Linked DNA regions of Homo sapiens. The protein of the gene in region 1 interacts with the protein of each later gene in a pairwise test. Each region holds a gene or a part of one and is shown in the gene's direction. Other genes may lie near its edges.

Evidence for each region.
Region 2: the proteins of CRYBA1 (region 1) and CELF6 interact in binary tests that used the Homo sapiens proteins (3 or more experiments, as listed by UniProt).

The regions. Positions count from the first base shown.
Region 1 is NC_000017.11:29,249,751-29,255,173, forward strand, and holds the end of CRYBA1 (beta-crystallin A3), read left to right. Parts: intron 1-431; coding exon 432-550; intron 551-2,313; coding exon 2,314-2,455; intron 2,456-3,889; coding exon 3,890-4,032; intron 4,033-4,451; coding exon 4,452-4,599; 3' UTR 4,600-4,744; downstream 4,745-5,423. UniProt on the Homo sapiens protein: Crystallins are the dominant structural components of the vertebrate eye lens.
Region 2 is NC_000015.10:72,302,984-72,310,270, reverse strand, and holds part of CELF6 (CUGBP Elav-like family member 6), read left to right. Parts: intron 1-3,926; exon of another isoform or gene 3,927-4,130; intron 4,131-5,476; coding exon 5,477-5,525; intron 5,526-7,287. UniProt on the Homo sapiens protein: RNA-binding protein implicated in the regulation of pre-mRNA alternative splicing. Mediates exon inclusion and/or exclusion in pre-mRNA that are subject to tissue-specific and developmentally regulated alternative splicing.

The DNA.
Region 1 (5,423 bases):
GTTGACCATAACTCTCCTTTACACTCTAGGTTTCTATAGGGGGTATGGCTGGAGAAGCTAAGAATCTATAAGGAGCTCCTGGGACTCCCAGAATCCTGGCCTCTGGGCCATGCTTATGAAGGAACTGTGGTGGAATGGGAGCCCATAAGTCCTTGGCCTGTCCATTGGTCTAGATATTATCCCTGGCAGACCATTTCTATCATAAACCAATCCTCCCTCCACCTCATCCCTACTCTGGGCAAATGAACACCAACCAGTGGCATTAATTCAAACCCCTTCCTGCCCTGTCTACACTGGAAGAGACCTCATCAGGCATCCCAGGCTACAGCTGGTAACAGAAAGCACAGAGTCAGACTGAAGTTAAGCTGTTGACCTGGACCTCTGTTTTTCCTGATGTTCTAGCTCTCTTGCGCCATTCAATCTCATTTCAGATAACCATCTATGATCAGGAGAACTTTCAGGGCAAGAGGATGGAGTTCACCAGCTCCTGTCCAAATGTCTCTGAGCGCAGTTTTGATAATGTCCGGTCCCTGAAGGTGGAAAGTGGCGCGTGAGTATGGACTTCCGCAGAACCGCAGCCCCTTATTTCAGGTCCCTTCAGACAGGGGACCATAGAGTGGGGATAGGGGAAGAAGGATGTTCCCCTAGGCTCTAGTCATTTCTCGGAGACAGGCCTCGAAAGAAATCACTACATGCATAATTTAGTAAGCCAAAGCTAGAAGGAAGGAACATGAGGTTCTTAGTGGCTTGGTACTAGATTTCAGGGGCTGGATAAAGAAATACATACAATGGGGTGGGACAGTGGCAGTAATCAAAATTTTGCTTCTGGAGCTCACAGGCTGCTACCTAGGGTGCCCTCAGAACAGCCACAAGACCCTTGAGTTTTTCTTGCCTGCAGAAAATTGGTAGAGAAGAAAGTGTCAAGTGGCTGCCTCTTCATGGCTAACTCTCCTCCTGCATATCCCAGAGCAGACACTGTTAGCTAATTTCTTTATGAAAAAAAAAACCTTAACCCCACGACTCCAGAGACATATTAGCTCCTGATTCATCTTTCAGGCAGTTTCTTGTTGATGGTTAATCTTGGTGAGGGAGACCCTCTCATTTTTGTCCTCTGACTCTTGGCAGAGTAGTTGAGGCCTTTATCATTAGCCTGAAAATACCTAAGGAAAAGACTCACCCTTGACTAGGCAGAATTGGCCTTGCATGTGGATAGGCTTCCACAAGTTGCTTGCCACCAAAATTAAGCTCTTCAGTCCTTTAAAAGATGTAACACTTTAAGGTGTCATCACTAACTGAGACCCAGTTGTGAAAAACTGAGCTGAGTGTTTCAAGTTTTAAGTACAGGTATGGGGCACTAGGAGAAAGAACTCGCAAGTCACAGGAAGAAAAAAGACTAGTAATCCATCAGTTGCTTGTTCATCCCTGTGCTTTCTTAAGAAGAAGCCAACAGGTTTGGCTTGAGCCAAAGCAATAGTCCAGGGGTGTCTAATCTTTTTGGCTTCCCTAGGCCACACTGAAAGAATTGTCTTGGGCCACATATAAAATACCATAACGATAGCTGATGACCTAACAACAACAAAAACAACTCATAATGTTTTGAGGAAGTTTACAAATTTGTGTTGGGCTGCGTTCAAAGCTGTCCTGAGCTGCATGCAGCCCTTGGGCAACAGGTTGGACAAGCTTGCAACAGTCACTAGATCCTGAAACAGGTAGAGAATAGGTGATTTGGAGAAAAAGAAAAAAAAATTTTTTTTTTTTTTGAGGCAAGGTGTCACTCTGTTGCCCAGGCTGGAGTGCAGTGGCACAATCATGGCTCACTGCAGCCTCCACCTCCAAGGCTCAACCCTCAGCCCCCTGAATAGCTGGGACTGCCAGTAGTGGGTCACCACGCCTGGCTAATTTTTGAGTTTTGTAGACGGGGTTTCGCCATGTTTCCCAGGCTGGTCTCCAACTCATGGGCTCAAGCGATCTGCTTGCCTTGGCCTCCTGAAGCGTTGGAACTACAGGCGTGAGACACCACACCCAGCCAGGAAATATAATTTTAGATTGGCTTTGCTAATACACTTCACTCAGACCAGTGAAGTAGATAGACCTTTTCAGTGATAACCCCCAAACAAATATTACATTCACTAACCTGCTTAGTATACCTGTCAACTCATTCCTCAACTCTTGTGACAAATTACTTTGTACAGCTCTACTGGGATTGGCTTGATATTTTACCCCACTATTGACTTATCTAAAACGAAAGATGCCTTCTCCCCAAGGCCATATAGGCTTTGAACACCATGAACAAACACTACATGTCTTTGGCAGCTGGATTGGTTATGAGCATACCAGCTTCTGTGGGCAACAGTTTATCCTGGAGAGAGGAGAATACCCTCGCTGGGATGCCTGGAGTGGGAGTAATGCCTACCACATTGAGCGTCTCATGTCCTTCCGCCCCATCTGTTCAGCTGTGAGTCTCTGAAATTTCCACTTCCGTGCATATGAGGGATGGGACAAGAGGGTGTGGACAGACTGACGTTCATGCTATTTATCATCAGTTATGCTGAATGTGGCAGGAAAAAAGACAAAAGTAAAAAAAGAGAAAACATCACTTTCTTCTCTAAGCCTGCTATTTGATTTTTCTCCACCAGGTGGTACTTCCCTTAAGCTAAAACTAAGGGTCTTACAAGTGGCAATAAGTGGATACTCAAGAGCCCAGTAAACTTGTGAAACACTAGTAAATGAGTGAAAGTGCTTACCCTGCAGCAAAAAGTAAATCCTTGGCCAGTTAAATTTCAATCTGTGTAACATTTTTACTGCAGAAACAGGAAAATGCTGAAGTAACCTTTCAGTAAGTGGGAATGACTGACGAAATAGGCAAGTCTTCCAGTATCGATCTACACTGATTGATAATAATCTTCTTGTTCTGAACACTTAAGTATTACTCAATAATGCATCAGGCTGGGATGTTTCTGGTCTTTGGAAACAGTTCAAGCAGAAAGCAGAATGACCTTAAGGGGTGTGTTGAAAATGATCCCTGTATTAGGAGTTAGGTTGGGCTAGAACCTTTCCAAATATTCAGTCTATGTGAGAGTTTCTCGTGATTTTGGTTAATAATCTCATCTTGGTTCAAAGTCTTGCCAAAATTCAACTGGTGGAGAAGTTAACCTAAATAGTTCTAATCCAAATAAATAGTTGCCTGTCTGGAAATTATTTCAATCTCACTTTTAAAAACATTTCATTTGCCCACCCTAAGGTATAACTGACATACAGTAAAATGCACAGACCCTAAGTGAATATTCTCATGAGTTTTTGAAAAATATATAGATCCATGTAACCAACACCCTAACCATATAAAGAACATTCCATCATAGTTCCCTGGTGTCCCTTTCCACTCAATTGCTCCCCTACCACTTTCTATTACCAAACAGTTTTGTCCATTTTTGAAGTTCATACAGGTTAGTCTCTGTCTTTTTAATGCTTGTGTAGTATTCATGTCCCCTACTGGACATACAGGTTATATCCAACAACACACATACACACGCAAGCGCACACATACATATTTGGGCTTACTTTTTGTAATAATCTGTGAGATCTTTTTTCACATTAGTGAATATTAATCCCTTGGTTGGCTGCATTTTGTTAGTACTTTTTCTCACTGTCAAATCCTCTTCATTGTTCCAAAATAGTATATCAGTTATTTGTACATTCAAAATGTTATGGTATTTAAATTGGAATAAACAAAATTATGGGTAACTTTTTTCTCACAAATCTGTTGCCTTAATCTTTTTAAATTATCATGTGCTTCCTTGTATAATCCAAAAGTGTTTCAATTTTGAAAAACATGAAGAATGATAGCCATAGCACTAGTACTAAACATTTTAAAACAATTTCTGAATTACAGAATCATAAGGAGTCTAAGATGACCATCTTTGAGAAGGAAAACTTTATTGGACGCCAGTGGGAGATCTCTGACGACTACCCCTCCTTGCAAGCCATGGGCTGGTTCAACAACGAAGTCGGCTCCATGAAGATACAAAGTGGGGCGTAAGTACAAAAACAGGGTTGGAATATACTTCAAAGTAACTCCTGAGGTTGCATCAATAGTTATGTTTTAATCAGATTTCATACGTATCGGTATAGATGTCACATTCTAGTTCTACATAATTTTGAATCTCAATTTCTTTATACCAACTACCACTTTAGGTTGCAGATTTATCTCCCCCAGACATGCCTCTATGGAAGAATTTACGTTGACTACTTATACCTGTTTTGATGATTAAGGCTAATTAACTAGCTATAGCCATATTATGCTTACAAATAGTGCCTGACACATTTAGGATGGCTATTTTTTCTAAGCCTAAAAGCATCTCATACCATTGTGTTGAGTAAAGAGGCTCAGGTTTTGGGGTATTAACCAGATTCCTAATTAGTTTTAATAATGAAATGTACTTTGAATTTCCTAGCTGGGTTTGCTACCAATATCCTGGATATCGTGGGTATCAGTATATCTTGGAATGTGACCATCATGGAGGAGACTATAAACATTGGAGAGAGTGGGGCTCTCATGCCCAGACTTCGCAGATCCAATCGATTCGCCGAATCCAACAGTAGCTGATTAAAAGCTCCAAGTACGATAATTCCTCAAGCATGAGACCTTGCTAAGCACTCTAGAATAAGTTTTATGTTCTGCTCACAGACATTGCTTTCAAATGTTAGCTGCTGAAATCCACAATAAACGTCATTTAAAAAAAAAAAACTTTGTAGACTGAATTAACTACCATGCTTCACATAAATCACACCTAAGTGGATGAGAATTTTTTTTTTTTTTTTAGTTATTTTGCTCTTGTTGCTCAGGCTGGAGTGTAATGGCGCTATCTTGGTTCACCACAACCTTCGCCTCCCGGGTTCAAGTGATTCTCTGCCTCAGCCTCCCGAGTAGCTGGGATTACAGGCATGCACCACCACACCTGGCTAATTTTGTATTTTTAGTAGAGACGGGGTTTCTCCATGTTGGTCAGGCTGGTCTCGAACTCCCGACCTTAGGTGATCTGCCCGCCTCGGCCTCCCGAAGTGCGGGATTACCGGCGTGAGCCACCACGCCCGGCCTGTGGATGAGAATTTTTGTTGTTGTTGAGACAGGGTCTCACTGTCACCCAGGCTGAAGTGCAGTGGTGCGATCTGGCTTACTGCAGCGTCATTCTCCTGGGCTCAAGTGATCCTGCCTCAGCCTCCTGAGTAGTTGGGACTACAGGTGCCTGCCACTATGCCTGGCTAATTTTTGTACTTTTTGTAGAGATGAGGTCTCACTATGTTGCCCAGGCTGGTCTCGAATTCTTGGGCTCAAGTGATCCACCCACTGTGGCTTCCCAAAGTGCTGGGATTACAGGTGTTGAGCCACTGCGCCTGTCTGGATGAGAATTTTTTAAGTCAAGCTT
Region 2 (7,287 bases), on another chromosome or scaffold:
CTGTCCCACTCTGCCCTGCACCTCCTGACACCTTTCCCAGACCTACCAGTGTTCCCTTCCTCAAGAAGGTTCTGATAAACTCTTCCCATGGAATGGGGAGTGCTGAGGGTGTGAGTGCTCAGTGAAAAGAATAGTTGGCATCAGGGCAGAAGAATCTGAAAAGGGCAATGCTGAGCCCAAAGGGAGGAATTTTAGACAAATCAGGGCAGAGAGTTAGGTAGGGTTTTGCTCTCCCTTCTGCTCACTGGGGCAGAAGGTCCAGGGCCCTGTGCGTGTCTGTGCGGCCTCTGACCTTTCCCACTCCATTGCCTGGAATAGGTTGTTCTCTCTGACATTCTATCCCTTGAATTCCCCTCCAGGGCTGGGCTCTGAAGCAGACATGGGCCTGGACTCCACCTGGGAAATTCTTAAGGGAACAGGTGCTCAGCCAGGGCAAGAGCTCACCTGAAGTCCCAGGACAAGTTTTTGGCCTGGGAGGCAATGTCCTCTTTTCCTCAAGGGGGACTCCTGATTACGTCCTGATTATCCCACTGCCATGTCCCTCCTCTGCCCATGGCAGGAACAAGATATATATAATAGGTTGCCCAGGAAGCTCATGGGGGCAGCTCTCTTTCTCCTCCAGCCACACATAACATGCCTAAATCCCAGGTGTCCTCCATCACCACTGCTCTGTGGGGACTGAAGGCTCAGAGCCCTGCTCTCCCCAACTCTGTTCTTACTCTCTTGGGTTCCTCCCCTGGGGACTTCCTTGTACCCCCAAACTCCCAAACTCCCACCTTCCCCAACTCCCAAGCGATGAACCTGAGGCTCAGCCAATATGCCCTCCTCTTCCCGGGTCCACATATCCAATAGAACTATAGCCCAGTTAATTCTTCCTACACATCTGTTAAATCTGTTCATTTCTTTCTATCCAGGTCACATTCACCTCTCACCTGTGCCACTGATCTTCTTGCCTCTAATCACTCCTTTTCCAATCCTTTCTCCACATAGTGACAGCTTATGGGATCCTTCATAAGACAAAACTGACTAGATGATTCCTCTACTTAAAACCCTTTCCTGTCTGGGCATAGCGGCTCACACCTGTAATCCCAGCACTTTGAAAGGATGAAGTCCAAGGATCGCTTGAGCCCAGAAGTTTGAGACCATCCTGGGCAACATAGTGAGACCCAGTCTCTACAAAAAATTTAAAAATTAGCTGGGCATGGTGGCATGTACCTGTATTCCTAGCTATTTGAGAGGCTGAAGTAGAATAATCGCTTAGCCCAAGATTTGGAGTTTGCAGTGAGCTATGATGGCGCCACTGTACTCCAGCCTGGGTAGCAGAGTAAGACCACAGGTCAGGAGTTTGAGACCAGTCTGGCCAACATGGTGAAACCGTCTCTACTAAAAATACAAAAATTAGCTGGGCATGGTGGTGGGTGTCTGTAATCCCAGCTACTCAGGAGGCAGAGGCAGGAGAATTGCTTGAACCTGGGAGGCGGAGATTGCAGTGAGCTGAGATCGCGCCACTGCACTCCAACCTGGGTGATAGAGTGAGACTCAGTCTCCAAAATAAATAAATAAATAAAAATGTTTAAAAAAAAACATTTAAAAATCCTTCCCTCCCCTGGATCCTCATTGCCTTTGAAATACAACAAAGTCAAAAGTCAAAATTCCTTGATGCGGTTTTCACAGCCTTCCCTAATCTGGCCCTTGCCTACCTTTCAGTTTCATATCCTTAACAACAATAACAACAACAAAAACCGGCCAGGTGCGGTGGCTCACACCTGTAATCCCAGCACTTTGGGAGGCCGAGGCAGGCAGATCACCTGAGGTCGGGAGTTCAAGACCAACCTGACCAACATGGAGAAACCCCGTCTTTACTAAAAATACAAAATTAGCCGGGCATGGTGGCGCATGCCTGTAATCCCAGCTACTCGGGAGGCTGAGGCAGGAGACTTGCTTGAATTGGGAGGCAGAGGTTTCGGTGAGGCGAGATTACGCCATTGCACTCCAGCCTGGGCAACAAGAGCAAAACTCTGACTCAAAAAACAAACAAACAAAAAAAAACAATAACTTTTTATATCTGAGGTATCTACTAAGATCTAGCAGTTGTCATTTTCATCACAACGCTGCAAGTTAAGATCATGATTCCCTCTTCACTAGTGTGGATATTGAGGCTCAGAGACCTTAGAGAAGCAAGTGGTAGAGCCAGGATTGAAATCCACATCTATCTGCTAGGAAGCAATTTGCTCTACCATGGCTACTCCCATGCCAAGTGCTCACTAGAAACTTTGCTCCTTCAGGCTTGCAGCTCCCTGTCCGTACCCTAGCCATTGCAGCTCCCTGTCCGTACCCTAGCCATTCAGCGTGCTCAGCCACCACTCCTACCTCTCCTATTATCTCTACATGGCCAATGACCCCAGTCCTGCAAGGCTCAGGTCAAACATTGCCTCTTCTATGCAGCTTTCCTCAGTCAACCTCTTCAGCTGGAGTCTGCCTCTTCCACAGCTCTTGACCTTGCACTCCCCCGAGGCCCTGGTCCCTCTGTGCCTCACTATTTGTGTTCATGCCTTAAGAATGGATTTGAGCAGCACTCCAGTGCAAAAATCATGGGCTTCAGCCTCAGACAGATCTGGGGGTAAATCCCAGCTCAACCACTTACCCACCATGGGATCTTAGACAAGTGATTTCACCTCCCTCAGCCTCAGCTTTCTCATCTATGATATGGGGACACTTGTATTCCCTTGAAGAGTGGTTGGAAGGATTTAGAGACAATGTATGTAAAGTGTCCCAGGAAGGGCCTGGCACAGAGTGGGCTCTCAGGAAATGGTAACATTATCTTCCCCTCTGCGAGCCTATGAAGAGAGGATCCCCATACAGATCATCACTGTCTCCCACGAAAGGCTGCCTGGGGCTCATCACAGAGTTCAGGAAATGCTGGCAGCATGCCTGGGTGGTGGGAGGCCTAGGTCAGGTCCAGGGGGGAACATGTATGTACCACCCGATGCCCACTCTCTGTTGAAGGGTGGGGAAGTGGGTGGGAGGAGAGAAGGTGGCGTCCCCCAGAGCACCATCTCCCAGGAAACCCAGCCAGGGAGGCAGCTGCCATGGAAACTGCTGCTGTCACGTGTGCTCGTCACTCTAGGCTCCAGAGAGAAATTCTCAGGATCTATTTAAGAACTAATAAAATAATGATGGTCTTGCTCACCCTCACTGCCCCCCACCCCAGGCTTCTACTCTTTTGGCCTTCTTCCCTACCAGGCTCCTCCCTGCCTCTCCTGCACCCGCTTCCTTACCCTTCCTCTCCTCATTTCCTTCCCCTCTCCACCAGTAACTCTCTTTCCTTGCCCCTTTCTAGAACTGTCTTTCTCTCACATCATTTCTGTCTGCCAGTGTTTCTTCATCTCTCCCTGTGTCTCTGCTCTCCATGGCTCTGTCTCTTGGTCTTTCCTCCACAATCACAGGTGGCCATGCCCAGGGACGGGTCCTGTCCTCCTGGTCCCTGGTCCAGGCCAGTCCAGACCTGTCAAGCTCGCCCTGATCTGCTTGGATTGATCTGTCATCCCCTCTAGACTGCAACCTGAGTCCTGTTGGTGTCTCCGCCCCCACCCACAGCCTGGTACACTGCAGGTGCTCCACCACCAGCGGGTGGGTGTGTCAGAGCCCTGGGTGGGAGGGGAGTTGCGCTGGTTCAGACTTGGCCTGTTCTCTTTTCCTTTTTTTTTTTTTTTTTTAGTAAGCCCTCCCTGCCCCTCCCACCCCCAAATTTGATCCAAAGGAAATTGCTCAACTGTGACTGCCAGGGCGTTACCATGGTTACTGGGTAGCACTTGTGGCTATGGTAACAGGAAGCTGCCTGTTGTCTCGGCAACGAGCAAATTGGTAAGGGATGGAGTGGCCCCTGATTGGTGCAGAAGCAGAGCATTTCCTGAGGGGAGGGGGTCAGATCATCACCTTCTCAGGCCAGATGGGCATCAGTACCCCTTCCTCCATGAACGGGAAGGCCGCTGTTTTTCCCTCCTGGCACTCAGCTGCCTGCCCCCCAACAATAATTCCTCACCTCCCACGCACCCAGCTCTTGGCAGTTTACAAAGACCTTTTGCGTCCCCATTACCTCATGTGATCCCCACAACACCCATGAGAGGAAGGTGAGATGGGGATTCAATCATGAATTCACTCAGGGTGGTTGGGGGATGGGGATGTGGGGGCGATATATTGAAATCACCTAGGAGCGTTTTCAAATTATGCAATACCCCAACTTAAGAGCCTCATCTGGTTCCTGGGTGATTTTTATCTACACTTCCTCAGGAACCCCTGAATTAAAAGATGAAGTTGGTGGGAGCGGGGAAGGGATGGAAGGAGAAGTCAAGCTGCTTTCCAGGCTTATAGCTTGGGTGACTGGGAGGATCAGGTTGGGGCAAAAAAAAAAAAAAACAAATGAGCTCTCGTTTGGGTGTGTTGAGTGAAGGCGCCCGTGGGACTTTCTAGTGGGGATGTCCAGCAGGCAGCTGGTAACATGGCTCTGAAGCTCAGAGGAGAATGCAGGCTGGAGACACAGAGCTCTAAGTCATCCCTGTGTGGAGAGGAGCTGAGGCTGAGTGTGGATGAGACTATCCAAGAAAAGTAGGAAGAGCCAGACAAAAAGGGCTGAGAACGGCACCTTGGAAAACTCCAGCATCCTCAGGGAAGGGGACCCTAGGGAGGGGATGGAGCAGGTGAGCGTGGAGACTCTAGTGATACAGCAGCTTGGGAAATGTTTTCCTCATTTGAAAAATTGAATCTGGCCGGGCGCAGTGGCTCACGCCTGTAATCCCAGCACTTTGGGAGGCTGAGGCGGGTGAATCATTTGAGGTCAGGAGTTCAAGAATAACTTAGCCAACATGGAGAAACCCTGTCTCTACTAAAAATACAAAAATCAGCCGGGCCTGGTGGCACGTGCCTGTAATTTCAGCTACACAGGAGAAAAAGAAAAATTGAATCTGAGAAAAGGTGGCTTACTTAAAGTCATACAACCATTAAATGACTAGAGTTGAGGGCAGATAGCACTGAGTCTGATTCCCAGACTCTCATCTAAATGACACATAGCGTGATATTCTCCATTTTAGACATAAAACACAAATCTGCAGTATCAATTCTACCCTCCTTCCCAATCCTCTCATGCAAAGCCTTTAAGTAAGTCCAGAAGCCAAAGGGACAGGCCTCACATAGCCCCTGCCCAGAGCCCCAGGCAGAAAAGTCTCTTTAGCCGCTTCATTCCACCTTGTGCTTGCCACTAAGTTCCTGTCACCCATCCCTGCCAGTTTCAGCACCTTCTAAATTCCTGGGTTTAAGGAAGGAATCTTGGAGAAAATCTGTAATCCCAGTTTGGAAGTGGTAGAGTGCAGAGTTCAAAGGGGCTAGGGCTCAGATCCTGAGGAGTCCAGGGTTCGAGAAGCTGGGGGCTCCAGGACCAGGCAGTCACGCTGAATGGGTGTGTTGGTCCGATGTCTTTCAGATGAATCGTCCGATCCAAGTGAAGCCAGCTGCCAGTGAGGGCCGAGGAGGTAACTTCCCTGTCTGACCAACCTCAGGCTGCAACCCGTGTAAGGGAGGGTGGGCCCACACCTGGAGTCTGTCCTACCCATTTAGTATGAGAGCCTCCCTGGGTCAAGGGGACAGGTGGGGCTCAGAGTTGCTGAGCCCCAGAAATAGCTCAGCCTTCCCTGCTCAGACTGAGCAGGGCTGGGGTTCTGGGGAGCCCAGGCCCAGAAGAGGCAAGAAGGGCCTAAACAGATGCCAGTGATAGAGAAAGGGGGTTCTTGCCACTTACCCTTGGAGAGAGATCATTCCTGTTTTGCCACATGGAACTTTCAGGGTTTCGTTGTTGTTGTTGTTTTTAAGAATCAGGTGGGGGTTATTCTCCTTCTCCATATCCTTCTGATATCAGAAAACACAGTCCGTTTCGGATTGAGGCCATTCCTTCATTGTAATTGCCTAGCTGCTCATGGTAAAAGATAAGGCTGGTACGACAGACTTTATGGGCCATAGTAAGTCCTCTATGCTGAGGACCATGGAAAGCTCTGATAGCTACACTGTTTCCTGGTAGAGAAAAAACAGAGCTCCTTAAGAACAGGAGGTGGGCTGAGCACGGTGGCTCATACCTATAATCCCAGCACTTTGGGAGGCTGAGGTGGGTGGATCATTTGAGGCCAAGAGTTCGAGACCAGCCTGGGCAACATGGTGAAACCTCGTCTCTACTACAAATAGATAAATTAGCCGGGTGTGGTAGTGGATGCCTGTAATCCCAGCTACTCGGAGGCTGAGGCAGGGAGGCTGAGGCAGGAGAATCGCTTAAACCTGGGAGGCGGAGGTTGTAGTGAGCCGAGATCACGCCATTGCACTCCAGCCTGGGCAACAGAGCATGACTCTGTATCAAAACAAAAACAAAAACAAAAACAAAACCACATAGGACGGTTAGAGAGCCTGTGCTTTCTTCTAACCAGCTGGGTTCTGGCCAGCTTCCAAGCTGTAAAGGCAAGGCTGGATTCTGGTGTCAGTTCTTGGTGTTTTTCTCACCCTTGCATCTTAGATCCTTCCAGTGTATCAGCCTATAGCCCTCCCTGATGTCTGCTGACTCTTTATCTTGGGTAAGACTCTCTTCCTGTCTAACCCAAGATCAGCCATGGCTTTGCTAGCTGAAAGAAGCTGCCCGAGTTCAGGAACAGAATGGAACCCAATTGATATAAACATGTATTGAGTCCTACTAATTCTGTACCCCTCTCAGACTTCATGCTCAGTCTGAGAACCCACACACAGAGTTCTGGTGACTTTGTGGTTCCACTGTGAAGTTCGTTCCTCCAAGAAATACTTCCATTATCCTTTTAGATTCTCTGACCTCTGGTCTCTGATTCTTGATTTCTGGTCAAAATGTTATCACCTTCACCTTGTCTTGGAGAGATATTTCCAAGTTTCCTCCTCCATCCACACACACATTCTCCTTTCCCTTTTTATTCTTTCCAGTCAGGTTTTTGAGATGTTCCAGGCTGCATGCAAAACTTCATGTTCATGTAACCCAAGAATTTCTGCCTCTTGGGAAACTCTTTTATGCATCAAGGCCATTGTTGGCCAACTACTAAGCCCTGCCCACAACCATGAGCCAGTCCCACAGCTGAGAAGCCAACTAAGAGTATGTGAGTGAGCTGTGAAGCAGACAGGTTCAACCACACAACCAACATCTTCTGAGCAACTTACTCCACAGCAGGAATACAGATGTGAGCAAAGCAGACCTGGTACCTGGCCTCATGAAGCACGGATGCTATGAGAGGA